Homo sapiens: one gene and its partners. The protein of the gene in region 1 interacts with the protein of each later gene in a pairwise test. Each region holds a gene or a part of one and is shown in the gene's direction. Other genes may lie near its edges. The genes, in order: SCAMP5, SH3GL1 and HSD17B13.

Evidence for each region.
Region 2: the proteins of SCAMP5 (region 1) and SH3GL1 interact in binary tests that used the Homo sapiens proteins (3 or more experiments, as listed by UniProt).
Region 3: the proteins of SCAMP5 (region 1) and HSD17B13 interact in binary tests that used the Homo sapiens proteins (3 or more experiments, as listed by UniProt).

Annotation. Positions count from the first base shown.
Region 1 is NC_000015.10:75,015,951-75,019,601, forward strand, and holds part of SCAMP5 (secretory carrier-associated membrane protein 5), read left to right. Parts: intron 1-642; coding exon 643-799; intron 800-1,919; coding exon 1,920-2,021; intron 2,022-2,467; coding exon 2,468-2,585; intron 2,586-2,838; coding exon 2,839-3,033; 3' UTR 3,034-3,651. UniProt on the Homo sapiens protein: Required for the calcium-dependent exocytosis of signal sequence-containing cytokines such as CCL5. Probably acts in cooperation with the SNARE machinery.
Region 2 is NC_000019.10:4,393,962-4,397,612, reverse strand, and holds part of SH3GL1 (endophilin-A2), read left to right. Parts: intron 1-3,651. UniProt on the Homo sapiens protein: Implicated in endocytosis. May recruit other proteins to membranes with high curvature.
Region 3 is NC_000004.12:87,316,234-87,319,884, reverse strand, and holds part of HSD17B13 (17-beta-hydroxysteroid dehydrogenase 13 isoform A precursor), read left to right. Parts: intron 1-1,448; coding exon 1,449-1,556; intron 1,557-2,661; coding exon 2,662-2,793; intron 2,794-3,651. UniProt on the Homo sapiens protein: Plays a pivotal role in hepatic lipid metabolism. In vitro, it catalyzes the oxidation of a variety of lipid substrates, including 17beta-estradiol, retinol, retinal, and leukotriene B4.

The DNA of each region.
Region 1 (3,651 bases):
TAGATTAGATAAAGACTGAGATTCCAGCCGCCAATGCCTGCCCCATTTAAGTGCAAGGTAGATGGCACAATGGCTAGAAGAGATGTTTCCACAAGGCCTTTTATTTTTCCCTTTCCATGCCCATATCTCGAAAGAGAAAGTGTAAGGTCGGTTTCCCATGTCTTGGGCTTGGTGATTGCTGTGAGTCTGGGAGGGTCAGGGGCTGAAGCCATTCTTGACAAGGACAAGAGCATTTCTACCACCCTGAGGCTTTGGGGCCCTTCAAAGGGGCTTGCTGGGCAGAAGCTCTGGGTTCTGGAGGCTGTGCTCTCCAGATTTCTCAGGAGTGGGTGCTGGGGTTGAGGGGTGGGGGTTGGTTCGAGCTCCCAGCTTGCGTTCTTACAGTCTTTACTCCTCTGCGTGTGTATGTGTGTCTCCTGTGTCTCTGTATGTATTTGTTGGTACGGGTTGTGGGTCTTTTGTGTGGGTGTGAATCTGTGAATGTGTCTGCATCTCTCTGTGCTTGTCTGCGCTGTTGGCCTGGCTTGATTGTGGGTCTCTGTTGCGTTACTGGTGTGTGTGTGCCCATGTCCGGGTGCTCATGTGTCTCTCTATGGGCCTGGGTGTCTGTCTCTATGTGTGCATGTGCTCCTGGGCCTGCAGTGAACAGCGTCACGCTGGCCGTGAACCTGGTGGGCTGTCTCGCGTGGCTGATCGGAGGCGGGGGAGCCACCAACTTTGGCCTCGCCTTTCTCTGGCTCATCCTCTTCACACCCTGCTCCTACGTCTGCTGGTTTCGGCCCATTTACAAGGCCTTCAAGTAAGTGGTTGGTGCTATCCGCAGTGCCTAGCCGTCTCTGCCCATCTCCCCTGTCTCTTCTCCATATCTTTTCTCACTTCTTTTTTTTTTTTTTTACCCTCCCCCAAACTCACTTTCCCTTGCTCACCTTTGGCTCAGATTGCTAGGTAGGGCCTGGGCTTTCTGGGGGTGCCAAGTTGAGGTGAGAGGGCTGAGAGTTAGTTTCTTTCCTCCTCACTCTACCCTTGGGTGGGGGAAATATAGACAGACCAGGCCTATTTTTTCTTCTGTCATCCCCTTCCTCAGGCAGCTGCATGTTAAATTTTGCCTGTGGGGCTGCCTGTCTTGGTGGAGCTGCCCATCCTAGTACCTGTGGGGCTAGCCGACTTGGTGCCAAGGACACCATCTATCCATGTGCCAATGGGACCAGCCAGCCATGTACCATTGACACTGTTCATGTGCAATGAGGTCATCCAACTGTGTGCCAAAGGGAACACCCATCCACATATCAGTGGGGCTTGCTGTCTTGGTGCCAGTGGGTGTCTACCTAGTGCCAAATGGCATTTTCAATCTTTGTGCCAATGTGACTATTCATCAATGTACCAAGGCTATCTGTCTTGGTGCCAGTAGAATATCCATCTCAATGCTAATGGGGCCTTAAATCTCTTTGTGCCAATCAGGCCATCCATCTAAGTGCCAATTAGCTACTGTTTTGGTGCCAATAGGGTGTCCATTCTAGTTCCAATGAGACTTTCTATCTCTGAGCCTATGAGACCATCCATCCATGTACCAGTGGAGCTAGCTGTCTTGGTGTCATTGTCCATCCCCTTGACAATGAGACTATTTATTCCTGCCTCAGTGGAGCCATCTATTTCTATGCCAATGAGGCCGTCCATCCATGTACCAGTGGGTGGTCTGTTCATGGGAAATCCCTCCCTGTGTAATGTTGCAACACACAGGTCTACCACGTGGAAACTTGCAAAGATGTATGGGTAGAACTAACCCCTTCTGACCTCTCAATTAAGGCCTTTAAATGTCTTCTGTCCATTATGCACTTAAACTTGGAAGGGCTTGGGGGCCTTGAAGGCAGGGAAGCCCTGGCCCTCTGCCCAGGTGACGGGAGCCACCTCCTCTGCCGCAGGACTGACAGCTCCTTCAGTTTCATGGCATTCTTCTTTACCTTCATGGCTCAGTTGGTCATCAGCATCATCCAGGCCGTGGGCATCCCAGGCTGGGGCGTCTGGTAAGAGGCAGGGGTGTGGCCTGGGGCTGGCAGGGGTGGCGTTGTGGGTGTATCTTTTGCTTACCTTTGTGTGCTAAGCTGTCTAGCCTATGGGGCCTGAGTGATGGGTTGTTGGGAGAGTGAGAGGATTCGGGATAGTGTAGTAGTACAACCATAGCATCAGAGGGAAGGAGAACCTGGCAGTGGTTTCTTGGGGGCTGAGGGGTGTCAGGGATTATAGGAAAACCTGGGGGAAGAAAGTGTTGTATCTGAAGAGCACCTCTGAGCCACAGGGATGGGGTCTTCTTGAGCCACTGGCACAGGTTCTTTGGGTATCAGTAAGATGGTCCCTCTGCATCCAGTGATATGTTTCCTCCCTGTGGCAATGAGACGGTCCCTTCCTCTAGCGGGGGGCTCCTGGGCACCTCTTATCCTGCCCGCAGCCCCACACTGGCCTCTTCCTGCAGCGGCTGGATTGCTACCATCTCCTTCTTCGGAACGAACATTGGCTCGGCGGTGGTGATGCTAATTCCCACTGTCATGTTCACAGTGATGGCCGTCTTTTCCTTCATCGCCCTCAGCATGGTACGTGGTCCCCTCAAGGGTGAGAAGGTGGCTTTGGGAAGGGGCCATGTTCTGAAACAAGCCCTCCTCCAAGTTGCAAGAGGATCCCGAGGTCTTCCAAGGGACTCACTCTGGAATGGCCTGCAGGACTCTCCTACAGAGGCATTCATGGGGAGGGAGCACTGTTTTTTTTTTACAGATGGGTCCCATCTATTTCCTGGATGGGCTGCCTTTTCTCTTTGATTAACCCTTCTTTACGCTCTTTTTCCTACAGGTTCATAAATTTTACCGGGGAAGTGGGGGGAGTTTCAGCAAAGCTCAGGAGGAGTGGACCACAGGGGCCTGGAAGAATCCACATGTGCAGCAGGCAGCCCAGAACGCAGCCATGGGGGCAGCCCAGGGTGCCATGAATCAGCCTCAGACTCAGTATTCCGCCACCCCCAATTACACGTACTCCAATGAGATGTGAACCAGCCACGCCTACCAGGTGGCAGAGCTGGGGCCATTGGGACAGGGGGCTCAAGCCACATCGTCATTTGTGGTTACCAAGCAGGGTTCCCCCTTCCCTTTTCTCCTTCCCTACTTTGTACAAAGGACCAGAGTTATATATATATATATATGTATATGTCTGTACCCCAGCCCCCACCTTTCAGATTCTGCTCTTGGCACTCAGCTGTGGGCTGCACGTGGAGCTGTCCCGTGCGGTAGTAGCTGTGTCTGTGTCCCCTCGTGAAATAGTGTGCAGTGGAGGTCTCTTGTGGTGCTAGATGTGTGTTTAGAGCTAAACCAGCCCCCACCCCCACCCTCCACCTGCCCCTCTTGCCTCTGGCCCCTCTGACCCTGGCCCAGGGACCCCTCACGGGGCCAGGGGAGGCATAGCAGAAAGACTGGCCCCTTCCTAGGGTTATGAGCTGGAACTGTTTCTACTTTCAGTCTTCCTGGGAAGTAACAGTACTTAGCACTCTTGGTGGTGGGTGGGAGGGTGGGTACAGGCCAGGGATATTCCCTTGCTCTTTTGATCCCTCCAGGCCTCGCCTCCTTCAGCCTCCTCCTCCCTCATCTGTTCCCTGATGTCACATTCCCTGTG
Region 2 (3,651 bases), on another chromosome or scaffold:
GCTCCCTAGCAGGAAAGATGTCCTCAGAGGTCTTGGAGGAATTCCTGGGCCACTTTGTTCCCTGCTATAGACAGGTCTCTGGAAGCCACCACCCCCACTCCCAGCGATCAGGGCCTGTGCCCATATTGTCCTGAGCTGACACCCTCTTTAGAGGAATGAACCAGGCCTCTTGTGCCGGCCACCAGGACTTTGTCTCTCTCAAGGGAAGCAGGATGACCTGCGTTCAGATCTGTGAATGGCGCCTTGAAGCCTGGAAAGGACAGTGTGGTGTTAGCTGGGCTTAGGATTGCCTATTTCCACATCCCGAGGCCTAGTCCCAAAGCACAATGGCCACAGCCCACCCTCGGGGCTGTCGTCTTGGCCTCCTGGTCAATTCTGTCCTGAGTCGTGCTCTTAGAAGTCACCCTGGCTGCGTTCCATGCTCTTCTGTGATCATTGCCATGGTTCCCTCTGACATCTCAGCTGTTATCTGGACGTATCCGACTATTTGTGTCTCTTTTTTTGTTTTTAGTCTAATAACAACTCTTTCACCCTCTGCTGTGCCTGTTGGAAAGTGACATCTCTCGGGATCTCTCATTACGTAGTGATACAAACATTTATTGAGTTCTCACCATGTGAGCAGGCAGTATGCTTTATACCAGTAGGTCTCAGCTGGTCTTGCTTATCCGGTCTAAGGGTAAAAAACATTCCCCCTTTTACACAAAAGGATTAGGGGACATTTATCTTCCTGTAAAACAGGGCCAGTTCTGTCCTCCAGGGGACATTGACAATGTCTGGGACCTTTTTGGTTGTCACAGCTTGGTGCGGTGCTGCTGGCTACTAGTAGGTAGACGATATTGCTGGACATCCTCCGGTGCCCAGGGCAGCATCTCCCCACTGCCCCCAAGAATTACCTGGCCCCAAATGTCAATAGTACCAAAATTTGAGAAACCCTGCTTGAAGATTTGGAAAAAAAATGAGGATAATTATACCAAAACAAAGGAACAAAAAAATCCCCACTGAGCCATTCTTACGATTTTCCTAGTTTGGCCAGGTGTGGTGGCTCACGCCTTTAATCCCAGCAGTTTGGGAAGCACTCCAGCCTGGTGGATGAGAGCGAGACTTCGTCTCAAAAAAAAAAAAAGTAAAATATAAAATAAAACAAAGATTTTCCTAGTTTGCTAAACACAGATAGCCACATGTGTAGTTTGTTTTTGTTTGTTTGTTTGTTTTTGAGACGGAGCTTCTCTCTTGTTGCCCAGGCTGGAGTACAATGGCACGATCTCGGCTCACTGCAACCTCCGCCTCCTCTGTTCAAGCAATTCTCCTGCCTCAGCCTCCCGAGTAGCTGCGATTACAGGCACCCACCACCATGCCCCGCTAATTTTTTTGTATTTTTAGTAGAGACGGGGTTTCACCATGTTGGCCAGGCTGGTCTCGAACTCTTGACCTCGGGTGATCTACCTGCCTCAGTCTCCCAAAGTGCTGAGATTACAGGCATGAGCCATGGCACCCCGCCCCACAGGTAGATATTTACATAAAACTCAGCATCCAGACCCTAAGGTCGAGCCCACCCTCAAGTCTTTAGGAAAATTCGAGTGTCTTTCAGTATCTGGGCTTCTTTTTTAGGGGGGAGCTAGATCCACCATAAACATTTTATGTGTATATGTACACCGTTTATCATATACATATTGTGACAACTGTATATATATATATATATTTTGAGACAGAGTCTTGCTCTGTCACCCAGGCTGGAGTGCAGTGGCGCAATCTTGGCTTACTGAGACCAACCTCCGCCTCCCGGGTTCAAGCGATTCTCTTGCCTCAGCCTCCTGAGTAGCTGGGATTACAGGTGCGCCACCACACCCGGCTAATTTTTTTTGTATTTTTAGTAGAGACAGGGTTTCACCATGTTGGTCAGGCTGGTGTTGAACTCCTGACCTCATGATCTGCCCGCCTCAGCCTCCCAAAGTGCTGGGATTACAGGTGTGAGCCACCGTGCCTGGCCTAAACAACTTGTATGTATACATACACTGTTTATCATATATACGTATTGTGGCAACCATATGTATGAATAAGCCTTCAAAAGGTGAGCACCTGTATTTCCTGGTAATTGACAATGTCAGTTTTGTGTGATGTAGTCTCTATGGAATTTCCCGTACATATGATGACAGAAACAAAGACTGAAACATGGTTCACAGAGAAACACAGAACATACATGACTCTCAGAATAACCATGTCTGCTGCTGTGTAGGGAACTCTTTGAGAGGAAACACTTTCACTGCTGGCCTCAAATGCCACTATCCACTTAGGTTCTTCAGTGTGAACCTTTAATTCAAAAGTACCTTCCAGCTGATCACGAGGAACCTTTATCGCTTGCACCTGAGGAGGTCAGGGCTGCAGGGAGCCCTGATTGTAGCACTGCACTCCAGCCTGGGAGACAGAGCCAGACCCTGTCTCCAAAAAAAAACACCATTTACAGTGACTTAGAAAAGGGACAGTTTCCAGTGCTACACACAATGGTTCCATACACAGCTTAAAGGTTTCCAGTTCTTTGCTGGAACTTGATTTAATAGTTGAGAGCCACAGGCATCGGGGCTCCTGAAGGAGGGGCACGCGCCCATCAGCGCTGTCAGCCGGGGATGGCGCAGACCCCTTCCTTGGCTTGGCAATGTCGGAGACAGTTGTTATCGCAACTTTGGGAGAGAATGCTCATGGCATCGAGGGGATAGGGGCCAGGGATGGTTGCCAAGCATCCTACAATGCATAGGACAGCTTCCCCCCGCTGCAAAGGAAGAATTCTCCAGCCCTACGTCAGTAGAGTTGAGCTTAAGAAACCCTGCTTTAAACCAGGCTCTAGACTTCCAAGGGTTCTTACGGTGTCCTTTCTAAATTGATCAACAGAGGCCGGGAGGATGCGGGAGAGAGTGCTGGAAAAGATAAACTTACTTTCTAACAGGCGAGGCTGTGTTGTTGGTTCTGAGTTTCTGATCTCTCGTTGGTGATAATGGTAAGAACCTTAGTGGGTTCCAGGCTAGTTCATCTCCCTGCAAAACCTTTTGGGAACTTGTTCAAAATTGGTTTGGGCTTGAGTGGGCAGTTTGTGAGTTTTTACTTCTTGTCATGAACTGGCCATAGACTGGTTGAGGGCCTGAGCTGGGGAAAGTTGAATCATCTGGAAGAAAGCAGTAAAAAGCCGTCCGTCATGGTCCCATCTCCCTGGTTCCCTCCTTTCTGCCTGTGTGACACCCACTCCCTCAAGAGCCTCCTGGCATCCGTGCGCAGCTAGAACTGGGGGACTAAGGAGGGTGAAAGAATGCCGCTAGCGAGAGCTGCTCTCAGAAGTTCCCTTGGTGTGCTGGGGGTTTGGGTGACATTATTTCCAGGCTTAAGCTGCTAACTGGCTTCCTGATAAATCTTGTGGCCGGGCTGTGTGAGATTGAGAGTGTAACTAGGGGTAGAGCTGGCAGCTGCCTGGAATGCTGGCTTTTTTTTTTTTTTTTTTTTGCCTGAAAGGAGGGAGAGGGTTTGAACATTTGAATGGAAAGATTGCTTCAGACTGAGCTAGGAGGGACATTCACAAGCGTCACCTCCCATAGCTTTGAAATCTGCCTGATGCTCCTTAGGCCCTGGGTTTGTGCCTAGGAGAAAAGGAGAGGCCAGGGGGGTTGG
Region 3 (3,651 bases), on another chromosome or scaffold:
ATTTTCCAGAATGTGAGTCAAGAAACATTAGAGCAATTTTATCTTAGGAAAGAGGTCTTTGAATTTAGGCTGAAAGTAAATTGCTCTGTCTCCATGTCCTATGGTTATGGGCAAGTTTGGTACATAAATGAGAAATCCATCCAGTGGCCTTGCCCATCTCACTCCCAAACACCTGAAGAATGTAATGTTATATCTCCTAGAGTAGCAGCATGGTCTCCCTATGAAAGTCCTTCTTCTTTAAGGAGACTTCTTTCCCTTCCCTCCTAGGAGGATGAGTCAGAATCATCAAGAAAAATATGATGGGCAGAGGCATACAGTTTACCATTACCACTAGTTTAGAATTACTACTTAGCACTTTACTGCCTATTACATAGTTGGTGCTCAACAAATGTATGATAAATTAATGGTTGAGTTTTTCTTTCTTCTCCATATTCATCTTCCATGACACCACGAAGAGCAATGTTTTTCAAGAATGTTCTTCAAGGTTTGAAAGTAGCCTGCTTTAGAGAAACTGCCTACTGTACAGCCTCCAACCAAGAGGAAAAGCTGAAAAAAGCATGAAGGGATTTTGTTTTGTTTTGTTTGTTTTGGTTTTAATATGAGCATTCCCTGGCAGAAAAGCCAGGGGTAATCTCATTGCAACTAGGCAATCACTCTCAAGAAATTTTCTAACAAATAAGGAGGCCAATTTTTATTTTATTTTGAGACGAAGTCCCACTCTGTCACCCAGGTTGGAGTGCAATGGAATGATTTCAGCTCACTGCAACCTCCGCCTCCCGGGTTCAAGTGATTCTCCTGTCTAAACTTCCCGAGTAGCTGGGATTACAGGCTCCCACCACCACGCCCAGCTAATTTTTTGTATTTTTAGTAGAGATGGGGTTTCACCATTTTGGCCAGACTGGTCTCAAACTCCTGACCTCAAGTGATCCACCCTCCTCGGCCTCCTAAAGTGCTGGGATTACAGGCGTGAGCCACCACACCTGACCCAGGAGGCCAATTTTTAAAAGGTTAACTAATCTTCATGTCCAAAATGAATGTTAATTGTTCATTTTGGACATGAATGTTAATTTTTTTTTTTTTTTTTTTTGAGACAGAGTCTCACTCTGTTGCCCAGGCTGGAGTCCAGTGGCACTATCTCCACTCACTGCAACTTCCTCCTCCCAGGTTCAAGCAATTATCCTGCCTCAGCCTCCCAAGTAGCTGGGATTACAGGCCCACACCATCAGGCCTGGCTAATTTTTGTATTTTTAGTAGAGACGGGGTTTCACCATGTTGGCCAGGCTGGTCTTGAACTCCTGACCTCGTGATCCGCCCTCCTCGGCCAACCAAAGTGCTGGGATTACAGGCGTGAGCCACCGCGCCTAGCCGAATGTTAATTGTCTAAAAATTTTTCTTCTCCAATGTCTTCTCCTCCACTTTTTTCGGAATTTGTTTCTTCCTAATTACAGCGCGGTGTGGAGGAAACTGCAGCTGAGTGCCGAAAACTAGGCGTCACTGCGCATGCGTATGTGGTAGACTGCAGCAACAGAGAAGAGATCTATCGCTCTCTAAATCAGGTGAGACTGCAGGTTCACAAATTTCTTCAGATTATTTTGTTTCCTAGGACGCTGACGTGGAAAATGAGAAAGGTCTTTATGACTGCCTGATTTAAATTGGATTTTAGCTGCTAACTGAAGTAGTTATGTCACCAAGGAAGGATATATACTTTTTTTCTTGTATGTAATCCACTCAGCTCTGCCCATTATTATTGTTCATATTATTAATCAATTTCATTCTGATCAGAAGTGTGAGCAGTGGCACAGAGTGACTGACAAAAGATTTATCATCAGGGAATATGGATCACTTCCTAGTTTTGTTTTAGTCCTATTAACTTTGCAGTAATTCCAGCTTCTCTTTAATTATTTCCCTTGTGAGATTTTATTTTGGTGTTAATGTAGTCTTCTGTAGAAAATGTAATATTAATAATTATTATCACAATTATTTTAAAAGAGTAAATACCAAATAATCACAATGAACTAAGCACTCTAACAAACTTTACATTTTTTAATTCAATCCCTACAATAACTCTGTAAACTTCATTTTACAGATAAGCAAATTATGACTCAGAGAGGTTAAGCCAGACCCAGGTCATGTAGTTATTAGGTTATGAAACCAGGATTTCTCAACCAGCACTTTAGACCAGGTGCGGTGGTTCACACATGTAATCCCAGCACTTTGTGAGGCCAAGGTGGAAGGATCACATGAGACCAAGAGTTCAAGACCAGCCCAGGCAACATAGTGAGACCCTATCTCTAAAAAAAAAAAAAAAAAAAAAAAAAAAAGTTTAAAGAAAAACACATTTTTAAAAAATGAACACTTTAAAAATATTTGGTCAGAATTTATATAGGAATTTATCAACATAAATGTTAATTTCACTTTACTGATAAACTTGCAAAACATGATGTGCTGGGTACTGAAATTTAGATGTTAAAAGAACAGTTTATCCCACCTTTATGACAGTGTTCCCTTGGCCTCCACGATTTGAGCTCAACAGTCTGTCTTGCCTGAACTCTGAGAGACCTCATACAATAGAAGAAAGACTCTCATCTTTGGATTATATTGGTCCCAAAACTTTGAGTTTGAATAATACACCCAGTGAAAGTGTTCTTTCAATTTCAAAAGGTGAAGAAAGAAGTGGGTGATGTAACAATCGTGGTGAATAATGCTGGGACAGTATATCCAGCCGATCTTCTCAGCACCAAGGATGAAGAGATTACCAAGACATTTGAGGTCAACATCCTAGGACATTTTTGGGTGAGTGTGAGTCAGAAACATTTCTGATTTGTGCACCTTCTCTTAAGATACATGAAACTTATAACGGAGTTCACATACTTCTGGACAGGAAACTGGCCAGATCTTTGCCTTAATCAAGAATCATTAAATTTGTTTGAGTAGAAGAGCCACAGAGTCTCTGACACAAGGACACAGAATTCAAGTGGACACAACACACCAGAATGTAAGCTACTTGGTCTGTCTTGTCCACCAGTATCTGACACAAAGCTTGGCATGTACCAGGAGCTCAACAAATGTTTGTGGAGGTTTGTTAAGGGTTGTCAGTGTACATCTTTTCAATGCTGTCACTTGTGACTTCATTTTTTTCCCTCCACACCATGATTTTGTAATGTGTCCTCATTTTGTGGAATTTTAGAATGGAAAGGACATCAGAAGTAATTACTTGGATGTATATAGGATCGAGGACACTTTTGGACGAGACTCTGAGGCAAGTGTTCTAGATCCATGGGGTGCTGGAACTGAGAAATGCAGCTATACAGACCTCATATAATTGGTTAGTTTTGTGGGAGATGGAAATATCAACTTCAACTGCCTTTGTATAGAAATTTTTATGATTAATCTTCCAGTGCCTCAATATTAGTGTAGAATCTAGGGCAGATCTGGATTCTAGAAGAAAGAAGAAAAAAAAGAGATGTGTCCCCCTTACCTTTACCAGCTCTTCACATATGTGAATTGGCTCCCATGCCCACCAAACTACACGGAGACCTCATACATTAGCTACCTATAGCTGCATAACAAATTATACAAAACTTAGTGGTTTAAAGCAACAATGTATGTTCACTATCCTCTCACAGTTTCTATGGGTTGGGAATTTGGAGG